Homo sapiens: one gene and its partners. The protein of the gene in region 1 interacts with the protein of each later gene in a biochemical or structural test. Each region holds a gene or a part of one and is shown in the gene's direction. Other genes may lie near its edges.

Evidence for each region.
Region 2: the proteins of EIF4E (region 1) and EIF4G3 form a complex in vitro, tested with the Homo sapiens proteins (3 studies listed by BioGRID and IntAct, with this or other methods).
Region 3: the proteins of EIF4E (region 1) and PML form a complex in vitro, tested with the Homo sapiens proteins (4 studies listed by BioGRID and IntAct).

The regions. Positions count from the first base shown.
Region 1 is NC_000004.12:98,883,701-98,891,516, reverse strand, and holds part of EIF4E (eukaryotic translation initiation factor 4E), read left to right. Parts: intron 1-184; coding exon 185-280; intron 281-3,564; coding exon 3,565-3,628; intron 3,629-4,324; coding exon 4,325-4,438; intron 4,439-4,970; coding exon of another isoform or gene 4,971-5,063; intron 5,064-6,455; coding exon 6,456-6,595; intron 6,596-7,816. UniProt on the Homo sapiens protein: Acts in the cytoplasm to initiate and regulate protein synthesis and is required in the nucleus for export of a subset of mRNAs from the nucleus to the cytoplasm which promotes processes such as RNA capping, processing and splicing.
Region 2 is NC_000001.11:21,166,898-21,173,897, reverse strand, and holds part of EIF4G3 (eukaryotic translation initiation factor 4 gamma 3), read left to right. Parts: intron 1-5,858; exon of another isoform or gene 5,859-5,937; intron 5,938-7,000. UniProt on the Homo sapiens protein: Component of the protein complex eIF4F, which is involved in the recognition of the mRNA cap, ATP-dependent unwinding of 5'-terminal secondary structure and recruitment of mRNA to the ribosome. Functional homolog of EIF4G1.
Region 3 is NC_000015.10:73,990,420-73,997,715, forward strand, and holds the start of PML (protein PML), read left to right. Parts: upstream 1-4,296; 5' UTR 4,297-4,393; coding exon 4,394-4,522; intron 4,523-7,296. Other genes in the region: STOML1 (stomatin-like protein 1), read right to left, coding at 1-38, 1,672-1,804.

The DNA.
Region 1 (7,816 bases):
TTTATGAAGTGTTAGAATTTCCTTCATCAGGGCTTTTTAGTATTCCATTGTGTGTATATATACATTTTTCATTCATCTGTTGATGGACAGGTGGGTTGCTTCTACCTTTTGACTTTTGTGAATAATGTTGCTTTTAACATGGGTATGCAGCTACCATTTTTTGACACTGATTTTTTATTTTTAGATGGGCACTCTGGTTTTTTAAAAATGATAAAAGCAAAACTTGGCAAGCAAACCTGCGGCTGATCTCCAAGTTTGATACTGTTGAAGACTTTTGGGCGTAAGTAACCATTTGTTTTAGTATGTTTGTTGTTTTATTCGTTGTGTAGTTTTTTTATTTTTAAGTCGAATTCACAAAATGAAGTGTGAGTTAAACAGTTAATGAATGTTCATCTATTTTTTTATCTCCTCACAAAAGTTTGAATTGGTGATTATGCTTTATTAGTTTTACAGAGCTTCAATCTTGTCATCCCCCAGCCCCAATTATTGTTTCTTGTCCTGAGATATCCTTAGCTCAAGAATCCATTATTGCCCTTAGAACTTTTGACAGCTAGTTGGAACTTGTTCCACTCCTGGTTGCCAAGATACATTTGCCTCATAACTGGGTATTGCAGTGCGTTGTTGGGTCCTCATTTCTGCAAACTGTTTTCAGTGCAATATCTGGAATTTCCTGTACCAGAGATTTTAAGATATCAAAGGCTGAAGTGTTCAGAATTCACGGTTTGTCAAGGCAATGCCAGTATCTATCATGATACTTTATTCATTTCATTATACTTTGATCAACCTCAAGAAGAATAGTTGAAATATTTTTGAAATTTTGTTTCTGTATAGCAGAAAGTTAAGAATTGGGATCATCAACTTTTGCATGACCTTAAAACAAAATTTAAGGCTGGGCTCAGTGACTCATGCCTGTAATACTAATACTTTGGGATGCTGAGGCAGGAAGATCACTTGCAGCCAGGAGTTCAAGACCAACCTGGTCAACATGAGTCCCTGTTTCTCTATAAAATAAATAAAAATTGTAAAGTCTATTTCAAGAAGTTTTGATAATTGATTCTCTTAAAAACAAAGTTAATCCAGTGTGTCTAATTTACTTGGAGAATGACTAGGGAGGTACTATTTGAGACCATGAAAGGCAAAACTCTTTAATAAGCACTTTAAATTACCTAGCAGTTATCTAAATATTCTAACTTGTACATCTTTTTTTAGGATCATATACATGCTGAATTAGTGATGCTACTCTTATGTTTTAATGTAACCCCCTCAAGATATTCTGCTCATACAAAGAAATAGATTGTGGTATAAAATTTATACATATGTATGTACATCTTCAACAGCAGAAACAATATTTTTCTGTATATTTCCAGTGCTTGGCTTCTAATAGATATTTTGTATTCATTTGTGTTGCTGAAAAAAGCAAAGCATACGATTAAAACCATAAACTTTGAGAGTATTTGAGAACATTCATTTGAGAGTAAACTTTGAGAGTATTTATTTTTTATTAAAAGCATTGACACTTAATAATAACTACATTTAAGGCCTAATAATTTATAGGTCTAGTTTTCTAGTTAAACTAGGATTATTATTCTTTGCCCATCATCAAAACATCAAGTAGTTTTTCTTCTCTAGTTTTGTTTATTCAGGACTCTTAAATAACTCCAGTCTTCTGCACCCCCCAAAAAAAAGCTTTTCATTCTCCTACAGAGAAAAAGGAAGCCTTGAGCCACCTTCCCCAATCAGATTTGCATTTATCTAGTTTGTTTGGCTTTTACCAGTTTACATAATTCTACCTTCTAATTAGAACAGTTCTCCATGCTTCAGTTACATGTAGTCAATGTCATTACATAGTAGGTTTTTATACCATAACTTAGAGATATGAAGGATTTTTCAGTTTTCTATAAATGTGTGGGCCACTTCCTAATTTCTGTTTTTTTCTAGCAAATTTATTGCAGATAACCATTGAGTCCTTTTGTATTTATCCAGACTGCATAGTCTTAGGATTCTGTTTAGATGTGCCATTATAAATTCTCATGATGGACTTACTTGAGAGACCTTTGAGCACCACAGAAGAGAAAGGAGGCAGCAAAAGGGAAAAAGTATTTTATTGAAGGTCATTCCCACAATATCCATTCATTTTATGACATTAGTAGCGCTAATTTTATAGTCACTTAGTATCCCGTCTTTTTTTGTTGCCTAGTGGAGGCTGTCATTGATGATGTAGTTGGGAGTTACCATTAGGTAGTGACTCAGCAAACCTTATGTGGTCTTAGGTTGTCTCACCTAAACTATATTTGTGTGTTATACTATGGAATTTGATTTAAAGATGCCAACTTCTTTCTTAAATCTTTTTTTTTTTTTTGAGATGGAGTCTAGCTCTGTCACCAGGCTGAAGTGCAATGGGGTGATCTCGGCTCACTGCAACCTCCGCCTCCTGGGTTCAAGCGATTTTCCTGCCTCAGCCTCCCTAGTAGCTGGGATTACAGGCGCATGCCACCACGCCCGGCTAATTTTTGTATTTTTAGTAGAGACAGGGTTTCATCATGTTGGTCAGGCTGGTCTCGAACTCCTGACCTCATGATCCACCTGCCTCGGCCTCCCAAAGTGCTGGGATTACAGGCGTGAGCCACTGCACCCGGCCCTTAAATCTTTACCTGAAATATTCCTAGATGGGGTTAACATAGCACCAGGAGAACCAGACTAAGGATAGTAGAATCATCCATGGTCTGTAGACACAGCTAAGATCATTATTTCTGCCATCTAATATTGGAGACAAGCAAAAGATTCTTAAGAGTTGCCAATTTTTAAATCAATTTTGCTGTAAAAGACTACAGGAGATCAAATGATCTAAGCCTCCTACCTTCAGGCAAGCAACTAAGTCATCGCAAATGTTATTCTGTTATTTTGATACTTGGGAAATAGTTTAGAAATACAGACTGCAGGGTTCCATCTTATATTTAGGTGATTATAATCCCAAGATGTAGGGCTTGTAACTATATTTATTTATTTATTTTTCTAAAATCAGTTTTAAAATGATTATTATGTTGACTAACCAGTGACAGTTTGTGGTGTTTGGGAACCGTTGATCTATTCTACTCTTGGATACCTTCAAGGATAATGACTGTTTCAGTCATGCAATCCTGATGGTCAGGAAGTTCATCGTTTCTGGTTTTTGTTTTTGTTTTTGTTTTTGTTTTTTTATGTTTGTGAAAAAAACTGTGTATTAACTTCAGAAATTATTTCATCTACTTAAAGCCACCTTATACCTCTCTTCTCAGTTTCTTATATATATACATATGTATGCACTGAGTTAACTAACATAAAATATATTTTTGTCAGAGCAGTCACTAGAAGTTTTTTTGAAAATTATACCTGTCATCTGAAGTTGATTATTTAACTGCTTTTAAGATCTGTTTTGTCCATTTTAGAAATTGACTCCTTAGAAACAAGTAAACATGAACTTTTATCTGTTTATTTTCATCATATGTTCTAAATGTATATATATGTAAGCACCTAAACTCTATATTACATATTCTGTGTTTTTAATTGTTATTTTCTTTTACCTAGTCTGTACAACCATATCCAGTTGTCTAGTAATTTAATGCCTGGCTGTGACTACTCACTTTTTAAGGTATGCTTAATTGGTGATTTTATATATTTATTATAGGACTGGGCCATTTGGTATTCATTAAGAAATCTTACCATAAACTTAGGAATATTTGATAGTGTGATGAATAGGCTGATAATTTAATTGGCTGTAGTATGCTTTAGTATCAATATATCTTATTCTATTTGTTTATAAAAATTGAGAGAGAGTTACTCTGTGGGCACATACTGAGATTGATTTTGATGAGAGCTTTGATTATCCAGTCTACTCCTTCCTTTATATATTTGAGCAGACTGAGTTTATCAAGCATTCTTAACCTTAGGAGCATGGGTCCTTGGAATACTTATTATTGGGCTTTGTCAGTTGGTAGAGGGACGGGACATTCATTAACTGAAATTGCATAGTTTTTGCATGTATTTTCTAGCTGTAGAAATGTACAGAGCTTCTAAAATATGTTTGCTTCTCAGAAAGTTTAAGAACCTTCAAATTAAGTGAAACCCAAGATTTGATAGCTAATAAGTGACAAAGCCAGGACTCTAATTCTGCAATGTCATGCCTCTGGCTTTAAGTCTTATGTGCTGTTTAAAAACTACATCAATGGCAGTTTTATGGGCAATAAAGTAAGAAGTTGACAGTGTTGTTGCTTAACTGTTTCTAATGATTATCTCTCAAAGTCAAGGTAACAATGTTGTGTAATACTGTTGTCTTCTAACCCTGTAGGATGGTATTGAGCCTATGTGGGAAGATGAGAAAAACAAACGGGGAGGACGATGGCTAATTACATTGAACAAACAGCAGAGACGAAGTGACCTCGATCGCTTTTGGCTAGAGACAGTAAGGTTTTAAAAGTATAAAGCAGTTTTAGAGGTAGTTTTGGAATACTGATACTTAAGATATGTTATGTTTTACATTTGTTACTTAATTTAAGAGAAGGATGCCCAACACTAGAAAATCAGGGTCAGTAATTATTTTTGTTCTGTCATATGACTCCTGTTTATAGTACAGTGAAACATCCTACCACATTATAAGTCAGATATTTTAAGTGATTGGCAGTTGACTCTCACCACAGTAAGCTCACTGTGGTCATTTCATTAACCTCAAAATTATAGAACCTTACATTTTGTATGATTGAAGTTTTTGCAACCCTCTTACAGCATTGCTATATGTATACTAAACTTTTAAATACTTATATTTTTAGAGCGAGGGTCTTGCTCTGTTGCCCAGGCTGGAGTGCGGATATTTATTTATATGGCTCATTTCAGCCTCACCCTCTGGGTTCAAGTGATCCTCCCACTTCAGCCTCTTAAGTAGCTGGGACTACAGGTGCATGCCACCATGCCCAGCTAATTTTCTAATTTTTTTCCAGAGATGGGATCTTGCTATGTTGCCCAGGTTGGTCTCAAACTTCTGGCCTCAAGTGATCCTCCCACTTCAGCCTCCCAAAGTGCTGGAATTACAGGTGTGAGTCACTGTGCCTGTCCCACTAAACTTTTTAGATTAGTGAAGCAAATAATAAAATTGTTGTGTACTACCATTTGACCTACATGTTGTGATATTAACTGGAACTTCTGGCTTTACAAGACAAATTAAATATGAGATAATAAGCATTTTCTGTAGACAGAGGTTCCAAACCCCAAGCTTATAGGAGCGGGGTTTGTAGTCTCTTTTGTATCCCTAGCACTTGAAACCGTGCCTGGTTTATAGTTAGCACTTGTTAAGTTAATCACTTTAAATGTTTGAATAAGTGACTATTTTGCTTTTTTTTAGAGACAGGGTCTTGTTCTGTCGCCCAGGCTAGAGTGCAGTGGGGCCATCATAGCTCACTGTAGCCTCCTGGGTTCAAGCAATCATCCTGCCTTAGCCTCTCAAGTAGCTGGGACTACAGGTGCATGCCAGCACAGCCAGCTAATGAATGAATGACTTTTTAAGAAGAAAATTCTGTTTTTGAGGGGGAAGATCATGAGCAAATACCATTTTTGAATTCCACATTAAAAAGTCAGGACATTTCCATTTTGCAGTTAAAAAAAATCTTCTGGAGATGGATGGTAGTAGGGATGGTTGTACAACAATGTTGAATGTACTTAACACCACTGAACTGTACACTTAAAGGTGGTTAAAATGGTAAATTTTATGTTATTTGTATTTTACCACAATTAAGAAATCTGTTAGGGCTGGGCTCACACCTGTGATCTCAACACTTCAGGAGGCTGAGGCAGGCATTTCACTTAAACTCAGGAGTTCAAGACCAGTTTGGGCAACATGGCAAAACCCTGTCTCTACAAAAAATACAAAAATTAACTGGGTATGGTGACATGTCCCTGTATGTATGCCCACCTACTCAGGAGGCTGAGGTGGAAGGATCATTTGAGCCCAGGAGGTTGAGGCTGCAGTGAGCTGTGATGATCCCACTGCACTCCAGCCAGGGTGACAGAGCAAGACCCTGTCTCAAACAACAACAACAACAAAAAACCAGACCATTAACAAATATTCATAAAAAATAAGAACAAGAGGAGATTAACCATGAATAGCTATTTTTATTATTCTATTAATATTTGTTTGCTCATAAATATAAGCAGCAGCAGAGCAAATGAATATTAATAAAATCAGCTTTTATGTCTGCCATGACATTAACTGCCAAATTTGCTGAAAAAGGCTGATTTGATAGTAAATAAATGAATGAGTATTTAAAAGTCAGGACAGATCAATATATGCAAATAAAATTTACACATTTAAAAAATTAACTCTTGATTTAAAAACTGCCTTTAGTTTCTATGCAAATACAGAAGAGACATTTGCAGTGTAATGAGCTTGTTTATAATCTATTAAATGTAATTTGGGATTTTTTTTTAAGCTTCTGTGCCTTATTGGAGAATCTTTTGATGACTACAGTGATGATGTATGTGGCGCTGTTGTTAATGTTAGAGCTAAAGGTGATAAGATAGCAATATGGACTACTGAATGTGAAAACAGAGAAGCTGTTACACATATAGGGTAAGTTTTGCTCTTTGCCTACTTATTTTACAGTATTAAGATGAGTAAAACCAGAAGTTATTTTATTTGTAGCTTTAGAAATACTTCAGTTTGTAGATCCTGTTTTCCTTGTATTGTTTTCGTGAACACTTTTATAATTTTGAACGGCTCAATTGGTGCGCAACGTCTTGTTTTTTTGGGTTTTTTCACAGCTATTTATTTATTTATTTATTTAGAGATAGAGTCTCACTCTGTTGTCCAGGCTATATATAGTACAGTGGCATGATCTAGGCTCACTGCAACCTCCGCCTCCCGGGTTCAGGAGATTGTTATGTCTCAGCCTCCCGAGTAGCTGGGAATACAGGCGCATGCCACCATGCTTGGGTAATTTTTATATTTTTAGTAGAGACCAGGTTTTGCCACGTTGGCCAGGCTGGTCTTTTAACTTTTGGTCTCAAGTGATCCGTCCACCTCAGCCTCCCAAAGTGCTATCATTACAGGCATGAGCCACTGCGCCTGGCCTTTTTCATATGTTTTTTATTTCTGTAAAATTGCTTTTTCTTAGCAGTGAAGTATATAACCACTAGAGCACTCTCCTTTGGCATGTAGCATTTTTTATTCATTCACAAATGAGAATGTATTATTTCCTACTTTGAAAGTGCTGTTTGGAAAAAAGTACTACTTTGAAAAGAGCTAATGTATGCTCATAATAATAATTCAGTGATTATTGGCAAATAGTATATGTGCATTTAAAGCATGTGTGTTTACTACGTATAATTTTCATTAAAATTTATATAACATATCTTGGTTTTTGTTCCATGTTTAAAACCCACATATGTAGGGTTTTATTAAACCTTTTTTTGTAAATTTTATTCTTTGCAAAAGTGGCTTTTTTTTTTTTTTTGAGACAGGGTCTCACTGTGTTATTCAGGCAAGAGTGCAGTGGTGCAGTCATGGCTCACTTCAGCCTCAACCTCCTGGGCTCAGGTGATACTCCTACCTCAGCCACCCAATTAGCTGCAACTACAGGTGTGTATGACCACACCTGGCTATTTTCTTGTATTTTTTGTAGAGAAGAGGTTTTGCCATGTTGCCCAGACTGGTCATGAACTCCTGGACTTGATCAAGCCACCTCAGCCTTTCAAAGTGCTGAGATTACAGGCGTGAGCCACCATGCTAAACCAGCTGACATTTTTTTTCTAAGATTTCTTTTTACCTCAATTATATTAGTAATATTTGACA
Region 2 (7,000 bases), on another chromosome or scaffold:
TTTTCTACCCTGAGGGAGTATGGGAATTTGTATTTGACGCAAGTGGTCATTGTTCAATAAGTGGATAACATTTAAGCATCTTGGCAGGAGTGCATAGCTGGAGTTAGCACTGTTCATGGCTTGAATAGATCTCCAGACCCTCAAAGTATGTGGGTATAGTTGTGTTTGCATTGAATTAATAAGTTCAGACAGTTTTATTTATTTATTTTTGAGACAGAGTCTTGCTTTGTCGCCCAGGCTGGAGTGCAGTGGTGTAATCTCGGCTCACTGCAACCTACGCCGGCTGGATTCCAGCCATTCTCATGCCTCAGCCTCCTGAGTAGCTGGGATTACAGGCGTGTGCCACCAGGTCCAGGTAATTTTTTGTAAGGCGTGATCAGACTGGGTTTCACCATGTTGACCAGGCTGGTCTCGAACTCCTGGCTTCAGGTGATCCGCCTGCCTCAGCCTCCCAAAGTGCTGGGATTACAGGCATTGAGCCACCGCACCTGGCCCTGATCTGGTGAAACCTGGTCTCTACTAAAAGTACAAAAATTAGCCGGGCGTGGTGGCGCCTGCCTGTAATTTCAGCTACTCAGGAGGCCAAGGCAGGAGAATCGCTTGAACCCACGAGGCAGAAGTTGCAATGAGCCGAGACTGCACCACTGCGCTCCAGCCTGGGTTACAGAGTGAGACTCCACCTCAAAAAAAACAAAATCAAAGGTCTTCTAGAAAATGTTTGGAACCCACGTCTTTTTTTTTTTTTTTTTTTTTTTTTTTTGAGATTGAGTCTCGCTCTGTTGCCAGGCTGGAGTATAGTGGCATGATCTTGGCTCACTGCAACCTCCGCCTCTTGGGTTCAAACGATTCCCCTACCTCAGCCTCCTGAGTAGTTGGGACTACAGGTGTGCGCCACCATGCCTGGCTAATTTTTTGTATTTTAGTAGAGACGGGGTTTCACTGTGTTGGCCAGGATGGTCTTGATCTCCTGACCTTGTGATCCGCCTGCTTCTACCTCCCAAAGTGCTGGGATTACAGGCGTGAGCCACTGCACCCGGCCGAGAACCACATCTTAAGTCAATGGAGAGGATTCCTGTAATCCCAGCACTTTGGGAGGCCGAGGTGGGCAGATCATGAGATCAGGAGATCGAGACCATCCTGGCTAACACGGTGAAACCCCGTCTCTACTAAAAATACATAAAATTAGCCAGGCGTGGTGGCAGGCGCCTGTAGTCCCAGCTACTTGGTAGGCTGAGGCAGGAGAATGGCGTGAACCCGCGAGGCGGAGATTGCAGTGAGCCGAGATCGCTCTACTGCACTCCAACCTGGGTGACAGCGAGACTCCATCTCAATAAATAAATAAATAAATAAATAGGATTGCCACATTTTGCCATTTATATTGAGGCTTCAATAGATGTGGCAAGTTTATGAATTCATTAATTCAGCATCCACTGTGTGCTGCTACACTCAGTGCTAGATGTAGGATTGAAGAGCTAAGGTAGAAATCTTTGCCCTCAAAGAACTTGGTCCTTTTGGTTAGAGGTGGGTAAACAAAACGTCATGAGGCAAGTACAGTGATAACTGATAACTCTGCTGTGAGAGTAGTCTGGGGAAGGAGGAATTAAGGCTTTCTAAAAGAAGTTGACATCTCAGCTAAATTAGAAGAATGAGTAAGAATTAACCCAGGTTTACATAGCTTTCTCTTCTGCCGGCCTGCTTTTTCCAATTCCATTGCTGCTCCATAGAATTTTAATAAATGGATTTCAGTCACGTTTCAGGCTTTTTTTTTTTTTTTTTTTTGCTAGAGGAGGTACCAGAGAAAGTGACAGTCAAACACAAGCTAAAAATTCAAAGTATTTTCTGTATCATAATCTAAGGAATTAGTGTATGAGAAGGAGATACATACCTGATCTGATCTGTGGTGGGTCTTTTCCTGGTCTCCTTCCCAGTGCATCTCGTAATATCCTTGCCCTTTTAATACTAGACTTTGGCTTAGAAACAGTACTTGCTAGTCTTAAAATAGAAGTAGATTTACCTTGGTGTATTGAGAAGTGTACCTGATTTGGAGGCAAAAAATCTGGTTTTGAGTTTGGCTCTTTCATTGTAGTAGATATCTTATCTTAGACTAACCATGCAACTGCTTCAGGCATTGGTTATCCCTTCTCTGAAATGTAGGGTCTAGACTCATTTATTCAGTGACCTTCTTGAATTATAATTGCTTATGATTGTCTTTTGAGATTTGTGTTATTCTTGCAAGTGGAGAGGAGGGATTTACAGAAACCAGTTAATGTTTTCTTTGTCTGATGGTAAGTGACATGTTCTGTGGTGGCTTATTGATATTAGAAGATACTAACATGGGGCAGAGGCAGAGGCAAAGCAGCAGTTTGCTCATATAAGCTACTTCTGGTTTTTGGCTTGTTAATGTTAGATTCAGCCACAGAGACAGAAGCACCTCTCTAACTTCAGTGGTGAAGACTGTATAGTTAGTTGTGAGATAGTGGGAGACCATAAAATAAGGTTGCCATGGTCATTTGCTGGCTTGTTCTGGGTGATGATACAGTTAGTTCATTATGAGATATGAGGGAAAGTAAGTTCTGGAATAAACTCCCGTGGTGCTGTGGTGAGACACAATCTATTTTTACCTAAGGAATAATACTTTGAGCTAATATAATAGGAAAGTAACTAGTTCCTGATTATTAGCCACGCATATGACTTTAAGCAATGGATAAACTGCAGCTGAGACTTACACGGATGAGATATTGCAGGATCCCAAGCGACTTCTGAATTCTCAAATGGCTTCCAGTTCTTTGGCTTGCTGCCAACCAAAGGAATTTTTCAATCTCCTGTAGCTCAGCTGAAATTTGAGAAAGTTAAACTATTTTAAGTGCATTTGAAATTTGTTGGTTTTTACGACTTTTTTTTTTTTTAATTTATTTTTTTAGACAGGGACTTGCTCTGTCACCCAGGCTGGAGTGTGATCTTGGCTCACTGCAACCTCTGCTTCCTGGGTTCAAGTGATTCTCATGCCTCAGCCTCCCAAGTAGCTGGGATTACAGGTGTGTACCACCACACCTAGCTAATTTTTGTATTTTTAGTAGAGATGGATTTTGCCATGTTGGCCAGGCTGCTCTTGAACTCCTGACTTCAAATGATCCATCCACCTTGACCTCCCCAAGTGCTGGGATTACGGGTGTTAGCTACTATGCTCTACCATGATCTTTATTAACTAATAATTGTTTTGTACTTTTTTTTGAGACAGAGTCTCTGTCGCCCAGGCTGGAGTGCAGTGGCGCAGTCTCGGCTCACTGCATCCTCCACCTCCTGGGTTCAAGTGATTCTCCTGCCTTAGCTTCCTGAGTAGCTGGGATTACAGGTGCGCGCCATCACACCCATCTAATTTTTGTATGTGGGGTACAGGTGGGGTTTTACCATGTTGGCCAGGCTGTTCTCGAACTCCTGACCTCAAGTGATCCACCCATCTCAGCCTCCCAAAGTGCTGGGATTACAGGCATGAGCCACCACACCTGGCCTGTTGTGTACTTTTTTGAGCCCACTGTGTGCTGCCTGACTTTATAAGACATTGAATTTTGTTAATAGAATGTAAACTCCATGAAGGCAGAGATTTTTGTTTATTTTGTTCACTGTGGAATTGCTAGCACCTAGAATACTGCTTGACAGACAGTAGGCAGTCTGTAAATTTATTTGTTTGTTTGTTTGTTTGTTTGTTTATTTATTTATTTTTGAGATGGAGTTTCACTCTTGTCGCCCTGGCTGGAGTGCTAGTGGCACAATCTCAGTTCACTTCAACCTCCGCCTCCTGGATTCAAGTGATTCTCCTGCCTCAGCCTCTAGAGTAGCTGGGACTACAGGCGTGCACCACCACGCCTGGCTAATTTTTGTATTTTTAGTAGAGGCGGGGTTTCACCATGTTGGTCAAGATGTTCTCAATCTCCTGATCTTGTGATCCGCCTGCCTTGGCCTCCCAAAGTGCTGGGATTACAGGCTTGAGCCACCGTGCCTGGCCTGTAAATATTTATTAAATAAAAAGTGTGTTGGACTTTGGGAATCAATTTGAAGATAAGTTTTAGGATTAATATAGATGGCATCACAACTCACTTACAGCATTCAAAGCTGCCCTCAAATTATTTTGCAGGGATGTATAATTGAATTGAAAATAATTCTGTAATTTCCTTTCAGATGGAATAGCATTGACCCAGTTTACAAAGCCATCTGAAGTGCCTGAGTTGTATTTGAAGTACATATTGATACTGAGGATTAGGGTTGGTATGAAGGCCAAAGAGGAACAACATCTGTAGTCAAATATTATTATTAAAAACTTATGATTATAAGAGCAAGACATAATTAAATGAGAAATTTGGAAAAATATAGAAAAGTAAAAAATCACTCATAATCTTATTAGTGGAGACAACCCCTTTTATTTTATTTTATTTTATTTATTTATTTTTTTGGGGGGAGAGAGTGTTGCCCTGTTTCCCAGGCTGGAGTGCAGTGGCACAATCTTGGGTCACTGCAACCTCTGCCTCCCGGGTTCAAACAATTCTGCCTCAGCCTCCCAAGTAGCTGGGATTACAGGTGCATGCCATTATACGCAGCTAATTTTTGTATTTTGGGTAGAGGTGGGGTTTCACCATGTTGGCCAGGCTGGTCTCGAACTCTTGACTTCAGGTGATCTGCCCACCTCGGCCTCCCAAGGTGCTGGGATTACAGGTGTGAGCCACCGCGCCTTGCCACTTTTTTAAAGAGGTGGGGTCTTACTCTACCTCCCAGGGCATGGTCATGGCTCACTACAGCCTTGACCTCCTGGGCTCAAGCAATCCTCCCACCTCAGCCTCCCAAGGAGCTCGGACCACAGGTGTGTGCCACCACACCTAGCTAATTTTTTTGTAGAGATGGGGTTTTGCCATGTTACCCAGGCTGGTCTCGAACTCTTGGGCTCAAGCCACCTGCTCACCTTGGCCTCCCAAAGTTCTGGGATTACAGGCATGTGTCCCAGTGTGTAGCTGTGATAACCACTTTTAACATTTTGGTGTATTTCTGTCCTGATTTTTTTTTTTCTGTGGATTTTAATATTAGTGGTCATACATTTTTGTAACATAAAGTCAGATTATGTACCTAGTTTTGTATCTTGCTTAATTTGCTACCTAAGTATCTGCCATGAAAAGTACTTTTTTTGGCCAGGTGTGGTGGTTCATGCCTGTAATCCCAGTACTTTGGGAGGCTGGGGCAGGAGGATCACTTGAGTCTAGGAATTTGAGACCAGCCTGGGCAACATAGTGAGACCCCATCTCTAATAAAAATTAAAAAATAGTTTGCCAGGAGTGGCAGTGCATGCCTGTAGTCCCTGCTACTCAGGAGGCTGAGGCCGGAGGATTGCTTGAGCCCGGGAGGTCAAGGCTGTAGTGAGACCTGATTGTGTGATTGCACACCAGCCTGGGTGAAAGGGCAAGACTGTCCCCCAAAAATAAAAAGAGATACTTTTTTTTTTTAAAAAATTGAGACGGAGCCTCGCTCTGTCACCCAGGCTGGAGTGCAGTGGCACGATCTCAGCTCACTGCAACCTTGGCCTCCCGGGTCAAGCAATTCTCCTGCCTCAGCCTCCTGAGTAGCTGGGATTACAGGTGCCCTCCACCACGACCGGCTAATTTTTTGTATTTTTAGTAGAGACGGGGTTTCACCATGTTGGCCAGGCTGGTCTCAAACTCCTGACCTCAAGTGATCTGCCCACCTCAGCCTCCCAAAGTGTTGGGATTACAGGCGTGAGCCACCACACCCAGCCAAGAGATACTTCTTGAATAGTTTTATTCTGTATCTACTTGAAATATAAGTGAACTTTTTGTTTATTTGGAATGCTTTTCTTGGGAATATTTTTTCACCTTTGGCTTTTAGCTTAGAAGTTATGACTGCACATTACAAAGGGGAATGTTCAAACCTTTATCAGTAAGTCAAACATCTTTTGAGTTATTGTTCCTGTAATGTTTTGCATTATTTGCAAGATTAAAACTCAGTGTAACATCACAAGTTTTTTTCCCATACAATTATTTACATTTCTTTATTATCTCTTTAAGTTCATCTTTATATGTTCAAGTATACTAAGTTTTTAAAAAAGGCTGGGAGCCAGAGTCCTAATTTTTTTTTTCTTTGTGACGGAGTCTCACTCTGTTGCCCAGGCTGGATTGCAGTGTTGTGATCTTGGCTCATTGCAACCTCCACCTCCCGGGTTCAAGCGGTTCCCCTGCCTCAGCCTCCTGAGTAGCTGGGATTACAGGCACCCGGCACCACGCCTGGCTAATTTTTGTATTTTTAGTTGAGGCAGGGTTTCACCATATTGGCCTGGCTGGTCTTGAACTCCTGACCTTGGCCTTCCAAAGTACTGGGATTACAGACGTGAGCCACTGCACCTAGTGTATTTATATATTGGCCAGGCTGGTCTCGAACTCTTCATCTCAGGTGATCCATCTGCCTCAGCTTCCCAAAGTGCTGGGATTACAGGCGTGAGCCATCGCGTCTGGCATTTAGTTGGTTTTCAGGAAGTGTTAGTATCATGAGGAGTGATTGAAGGAAGGAGGAAAAGACCACAGGGATTCATGCGGGATGAGGGAAAGAGGATTGAAGTGTGGGAACAAACATAATTTTGGAATAAGGAGAGAAAATTAAGTGGGAATAGAAAATGAACACAGCCAGTTTTAAACCAGAATACTATTTTTACATTGAGAATGGAAAGGACTGAACCTTGAAGGTTAAATGAGATGATTCCTGACCTTTTTTCTAGGTCCTAGTAATTAGTATGTAAGAAATAGAACTTGGTCGGAGAACTTGGCCAGGTGCAGTGACTCATGGCCTGTAATCCCAGCACTTCAGGAGCCCAAGGTGGGTGGATTGCTTGAGTTCAGGAGTTTGAGACCATCCTGGATGACATGACAAAACCCCGTCTTTACAGAAAATACAAAAATTAGCCAGGCGCGGTTGCACGTGCCTGTAGTCCCAGCTACTTGGGAGGCTA
Region 3 (7,296 bases), on another chromosome or scaffold:
GCCATGACAGAGGCAGGAGGGCCAGCTCTGGGGTACATCTGCAGGTGAGAGCAGAGGTGGTCAACTGGACCTGCACGACAGCTGCCAAGCGGAGTGAACTTGGGCAAGTGTACCTTACGCCCACCTTCCCCTCGAGAGGCTCCTTCCTTCTCAGGGCTCTCAATCTGGCTCCTTGCCTAATATTCCCGTATCTTTGGGCAGCTGCAAGTTAGGGTCTGTTCCCTCCTCCCATACATCAACACTCATTTGTCCCAAGTCCAACAACCCTCACAAGGCCTTATTCTCTGCTAGGCAACAGCCATTCAATCTCAGAATCCAGTCCGCGTGATGATGCTCTCCTCACTGGACTGAGTAGGGGTCAATCCTCTCGTTTAATTTATATTGCCTACCCATACCTGGCATGGAGCCAGGAGCACCTGGGCATCTGTAAACATGCACTGAATACTGCTGGCAAAACACATTCCTCCTATACCATCAGCCCCAGAAGTGTGCTTTCCAGGAGTCCTTATGAAGATGATGCCTTAGCCTACAGGGATAAATCATAAATAGCTTATCAACGGGAGCCACAGATGAGGAATTAGATTATTATTTTCTATTCCACACCCAACTTTAATGCCTTAATGACCATTAAAAAATGCCTATTTCACGAGATGGCGCCACTGCACTCCAGCCTGGGGGACAGAGCGAGACTCCATCTCAAAAAAACAACAAACAACAAAAAACAAAAACAAAAAAAAACCCTGCCTATTTCAATTCAAGAAAATTGTTAGGGGTCGGGGTCAGGGGCAGGGCTAGAAAGATGAGGCTTATCCAAGCCAAATGTCCTGGCCCCTGGAGATTCAGGAGCCCAAGTTGGGAGCAAAGCCGAGACAGCTCCAGAATCTGGGATGAGGTTATTTGCCGCTTTCCTCCCAACCCTGGACAGGAAGCAGTCGGGAGCCCTGCTCCATTCTTCCAGGAAGCCCTGCCCTCTGGGCTAAGCCCCAGAGCACTGAGGCTCCACTTTGTGCCTGGCTCTGATCCACCAGGCCTCTCAAGAGACTTCTGGATAGGGAGAGCTTTCAGGACAGGAAGGCCAGGGAGGGATCAAATCCAAGGTTAGGCGGTTAGGCTGAACAGCGTGGGATCTGGCCTGTAGGCCAAAGGAGCCACAGAAGACTTTGAGGGCAAGACAGAAGCAGGGCAGATCCAACAGGCAGCTGAGGACCTGTCATTTTGGCCTGCACATCCAGGAGATGCCTAGTTCCCGGGCTTCTAGAGGTGCCCCCTAGGGCGAAAATTCTTCCATTTCCCTGCAGCAGGTGCCTTTAGGGTGCTGGTGGCCTCCTCTGCCTAGACCTCGGTTTCTTCTATGCGAAATAGAAACCTGAAACGTCTTCCCAGGCCTAAAGGGCTGATAAGAGCCGAGGACAAATGTGGTGAGGTGAGGTTTTGGAAGATAGGAGCAACGCTGGCTGGCTCTGGGGCCAAAGCCCCATGACCCTAGGGAGGGCGGATCGGCGCTAGCACCAGGCGCCGGGTCCAGCCCCCTCTCCACATCGTATCCCTTTCTCAGTCCCCCCTCGTAGGGTGCGACGGCACCGGGCCGGCCGACTCCTCGGAGGCAGAGATTCGGGCCTGGGGGTTGCCGGCCGGTCCCCCCCGGCTCCGCCGTGCCAGGCGGCCACTCACCGGCCCCTGTCCCCACGCCGCCCCGCTCCGGGGACAAGCAGCCCTTCTGCGAGCCCAGAAAGCCGAAGCTCGACTGCTGGAAGCGGTCAAAATCACCCAGGGGCAGCGCCCGGTACCCAGACCTGCCGAGCATGGCTTTTGACAGGAGACACGCCCCGCGCCTCCGCGCGGCGCCCTCCCTGGCCAGTGGGCCCTACGCGGCCCCGCCCTCCTGGCTGCTGCTTCCGGCTTCACCCGCGCGGCCACCCGCGGCGGCGCGGGCGCAGGAAGAGGAGGCCGGCCGGGGCCCGCTTCCGCCGTCGCATGGCTCCCCCTGCGCTGGGAGGACCGAACTGCAGCCCAGGGCTACTGGGTGTGATCGGCGTTCCTCGGACCCCGCTGGGGTCATCGCCTCCTCCCCTCTTCTCCTACTCAGCCCTAGAAAAGCTGGAGGGGAAGCTGGGCACGGTGGCTCACTCCTATAATCCATCAATTTGGGAGACTCAGGCAGGAGGATCGCTTGAGGCCAGGAATTCAGGACCATCCTGAGCAACATAGTGAGAGCCCATCTCTACAAAAAATTTTTAAAAATTAGCCTGGCGTGGGATGCCTGCCTGTGGTCCCAGCCACTTGGGAGGCTGAGGCGGGAGGATCTCTTGAGTCCAGGAGTTTGAGGCTGCAGTGAGCTATGATCGTGCCACTGCACTGCAGTCGGAGCGAGAGAGCAAGATCTCATCAGGGTTTACAGGAAGCCAATCTTCTCCAGGATCAAGGACATGCTATATCAGCCTTCTCAGCACTCCTTCTCTCACACTGGAGGCAGGACATGCCATATCTGGACTTTGGGTTTCTCTGGGACATAGTCTGCAAATTATTCCTCTTTGTGAACCCACAGCCCAGCAAGCAGGGACTGGCATAGGGCAGGTCTCAATACTTATTTGTTAAGTAATGGCCTGGCCAGGTCACCGTGATCAAGGTGGAGTAGGAAGGCCTGAACTTTGGCACAAAAAGAAAGAAGTTTCACATGCAGACTTCGGGGAGCATGGGAGTGTAAGGAAGAAGGGGATAGCACAGAGCTACATGAGGGCAGGGGCCCCAGAGCACCACAGAGGTGAGGCCCTCAGTCCTGCAGGTCCAGAAAGAGCATGCCCCTTGATCCAGGTACCTGGAATTAACTTGCCTCTCCAGGGCTTGAGAAAACCTGAATGCAACTCGTGAATTTCCTTTGAGAAGTGTTAACTTCCAACAGGACTTTGGGGTAGTCTGGGAGCAGGCTATCTTCCAAAGCAAGCAAAGAAATGAATAAAGCTTCCCCAGCTCTGCCTCCTCAGCCAATCGCCTCTGGCCTCCGAAGCCCCATCCTGCCATAGCCCACTTCCAGGTCCCTTGTGCAGATGGCTGCCCACCATATTTGGCTTTCATGGACTGATTCTCTAAAGGCCTGGGAGTACTGACCAGGCTGGAGGGAAGGGCAGGCTCCTGAGGCCTTACAGTCCCTAGGAAGTTGCGTATCTGCCCAACCCCTGCTCTCCACCCTGCAGACTGTAAGGTTTACAAGAGCCAGGCCCTATCATCATCCTTTCTAGTCTGTTTCTAAGTTGGAACAGAGTACGGAATGGGTACACAGGAGCCAGCACAGTGGTTGCGATGGTTTAAGTTTGAAGCCGGGGCGCTGACCCAGTGAGGTCACCTGGAACTGTGCCCCTTTCCCCTTACCAGCTGGGAGTCTGACATGCTTTTCCATTGGCGAAGACCTAGCTGGCTCTCCCCTCACCCTCTTCATACCCGCTCTCCAGCTCTCCCCCTCCCTCCTGCCCCCACCACCTCAGATCCACCAGCCTTTCCAGCTGTCACTCAAGGCATCATCCTGCTCCCTCACCTCCAGTCACTGGCTTCCCAGGATCTCTGAATCAAGTCCCTCCTCTGCATCCCACAGCCACTGTCCTAGACCAGGGCACCTGCTCCTAGGTTGTCAGAGTGACTGTCCCATCATGCACAGCTGATCGTGTTGTTCCCTGGTTCCAAATCCTTCAGCAACTTCCCATCACTCACAGAACTGGTTCAATCTCCTCAGCTAGGATCTTGTCCTAGCACACTCCTTGGGTATCATTTCTCATGAATTCCCTCTTAAATCTGAAAATGGCCAAAATTAGTTCCCAAACAGGCTTTTGCAAGAGCTATCTTTTCTGTTTCAAGTGTCCCCCGTACCCCACCACCTACAACCCTAAATCCCTGGTGAATTTCCACTGCTTTTGCAGGTCCCAGCTGTGGGCTCTCCTTTCCAGAATGTCTCCGTTTGCAGGCTTGCTCTTCCATTACATCTACGGCTCTTAGAAAGCAGGGGCTGCGTGTGGCTCATCTTTGTACGCCCAGCTCCCGGCAGGACGTGGCACGAAGCAGTGCCAGTGTGAACGGATGAATGGATCAAAGCCGGGAGCAGGGCTGCCCCCCTGCAGCTCTGCCCTACCTCTCCCGCTTTACCGTAAGTCAGCGGTAGGTCTGCAGCTCTCCGCCTCTACCTCCTCCCCGCTCTGGGCGTGTCTTTAAAACCCACAGTCGGCCTCTCTGCCCCCTAGAACCGCCCCCAGCTTCTGTCTCACTTCCTCTCCAGAGGCGGGCCCTGAGCCGGCACCTCCCCTTTCGGACAGCTCAAGGGACTCAGCCAACTGGCTCACGCCTCCCCTTCAGCTTCTCTTCACGCACTCCAAGATCTAAACCGAGAATCGAAACTAAGCTGGGGTCCATGGAGCCTGCACCCGCCCGATCTCCGAGGCCCCAGCAGGACCCCGCCCGGCCCCAGGAGCCCACCATGCCTCCCCCCGAGACCCCCTCTGAAGGCCGCCAGCCCAGCCCCAGCCCCAGCCCTACAGAGGTACTATTGGGTTAGGGGATGATGGGGTTAAGCTTTGTTGGTTTGCTGTGGTGGGGAGAGGCGGGAAGAGAGGGTCTAACGGAGGATTTGGTCAAGTACCCTAGAGAGTGACACAAAGCGGGAAGTCCAGACACCAGGGTCCTGACCGTCTCGGGTGGGGCAGGGAAGGGAGGGTAGGATAGAGTAGAAAAGAGGACACGGAGGAGTTGGGGCGGCCTCGCTGGGCTGCGGTTTCTCCACTGAGCAGTTGGGCAAGGTGAGAAGGGTCAGTGGCCTCCGGGCCTGGGCCCTTCCGCCCACCCTCGAGCCCTGCCTCAACTTTGCCTCAGATGCAGGACTTCAGATTAGGGAGGATGGAGGTAGTACCCCTGTTGCGCTGGCCTGGAGCCAGGGGCATGTCCCAGGCACGGCAAAACTAAAACCAACTTCCCAGATCCGAGGTGAGAAACTGGCTCAGACTGAAGAGGTATCTTTGCCAAGGCCTCCCAGCTCATGTGGTTTCTGCTTAAGGAAGCCTCCCCAACGAACCCTTCTCTTGCCACACCTTTCCTGCCCACCTCCCACCTCCCCCGACAAAGGAACTACTTGGGTTTCTTGCTCTGCTGCCTTTCAGGCCCTTTTACTCCCCTTCATGAAAGTACAGAGGACACCGTATTACAGTAACTTTTATAAACATTATTACAACTAAGAATAACATTACTTAACAATACTAGGTAACATTTATGAGCACTTCAAATGTGCCAGGTACTGTATTAAGCACTTTGGTTTTTTTTTGTTGTTGTTTGTTTGTTTTGCTTTGTTTTTTGTTTGTTTGTTTATCTGTTTGTTTTTGAGACGGAGTCTCACACTGTCGCCCAGGCTGGAGTGCAATGGTGCGATCTCGGCTCACTGCAACCTCCTCCTTCCGGGTTCACGCCATTCTCCTGCCTCAGCCTCCCGAGTAGCTGGGATTACAGGCCACGCCACCATACCTGGCTATTTTTTATATTTTTAGTAGAGATGGGGTTTCACTATGTTGGCCAGATTGGTCTCTAACTCCTGACCTCGTGATCCACCCACCTCGGCCTCCCAAAGTGCTGGGATTACAGGCATGAGCCACCATGCCCGGCCTGTTTTTGTATTTTACAAAATGTGGTAAAATATACCTAATGGATAAGTTCCTATGTTAACCATTTATAAGTGTACCATTCAGTGGCATTAAGTAGATTCACAATATTGTGTAACCATCACCACCATCTATTTCCAGAACTTTTTCATTACTCCAGAAACTCTGTACTCTTTAAACCATAGGGGAGGGAAAGATGGCTTGCCTCCACCCTTCTAGTTTCCTTGGCTGGGCTATGAATTAAATAGCCTATGAATTAAATAGTCATAAAATAGATTACCAGCGGAAAACCCATATTTAATTACATATGTATACTCAGGAGTCCCACAATATATGAGACTCAAAGAAAGGTCAGATGATTGAAGCCTGTATAACATCCTGAGCTACGGAAAAGAGCTTGGAGCTTCTGGGTGATGGTGATAACACAAGTTATGGGAGGGTGAGGAGAGGAGCTGTTTGGTGAATAGAGGTTGTCTTGCTATGTAGATTAAAAGTTCTTAGATAATAAAAGTTGTCTGGAGCAGCCCTCTTTTAATATAGATCATTTTACTAATGTAGATTTTCTTTTAAGATATAAATGCCTTTCTTTTTTACAAAAGGAGAGCTTTTCAGAGCTATTCCTGTATCAGCAGTTTCTCAGAATAACCAGCTTAAAATATGCCAAAGAAGTATATTTCAAGAGCCTCCTGCAGTCATACTTTGAAGTGGTGTGTCCTGAGCCCCAGTAATGCAATAGCTCCTCATTTTCTCCTTCCCCTAGCCCTTGGTAACTTCTAATCTACCTTCTGTCCCTATGAACTTACTTATTCTAGATATTTCATGTAAGTGGAATTGTTACCAGTAGAGGATCTTGACTGCAAATTGTTCAGGTTCTTGGCATTTTGAACAAAGAATTGGACAAAATGTACAGCAAAGCAAGGAAAGAGTGAAGCAATGAAAGCAGAGATTTATTGAAAATGAAAGTACACCCCACAGGGTGGGAGCGGCTAGAGCAGGGCTCAAGGACCCCAGTTACAGAATCTTCTGGGTTCCAAATACCCCCTAGAGGTTTCCCATTGGCCACTTGGTGTTCACCCCATTGGTTGCAGAAAGCAACCAACCAGACGTACTTTCAATTTTCCATCTGCCCTGCAGGAAATGGGGTGATTTGCAAAGAGAGTAGCCTCTCTTCCTTTTGTTACTGAGGCATGGAGAGTTGCGGTTTTCCTTTCGATTTAGTTCTAGGAAGTCAGAGGGAATCGGCCTTAGGTTCCCTGCCTCCAGACCCTATTCTCCTGCCTCAGAATCATACAGTGTTTGACCTTTTGTGACTGGCTTATTTCACTTAGCATAATGTCATTGAGGTCTATCTATGTTGTAGCATGTATCAGAATTTCATTTCTTTCTAACGCTGAGTAATATTCCATTATATGTGTAGACCACATTTTGTTTATCTATTCATCTGTTGATGGATACTTGGATTGTTTCTACATTTTGTCTATTGTGAATAGTGTTGCTGTGGACATTGTTGTACAAGTATCTGTTTGGGCCTTGTTTTTACATCTTTTGGTTATATATCTAAGAGTGGAATTTCTGGGTCATATTGTTGTTCCATGCTTACCTCTTTAATGAACCCCCAAACTGTGCATTAAGCACTTTATATGAGGTTGGTACTTAGTGTATCTACCTT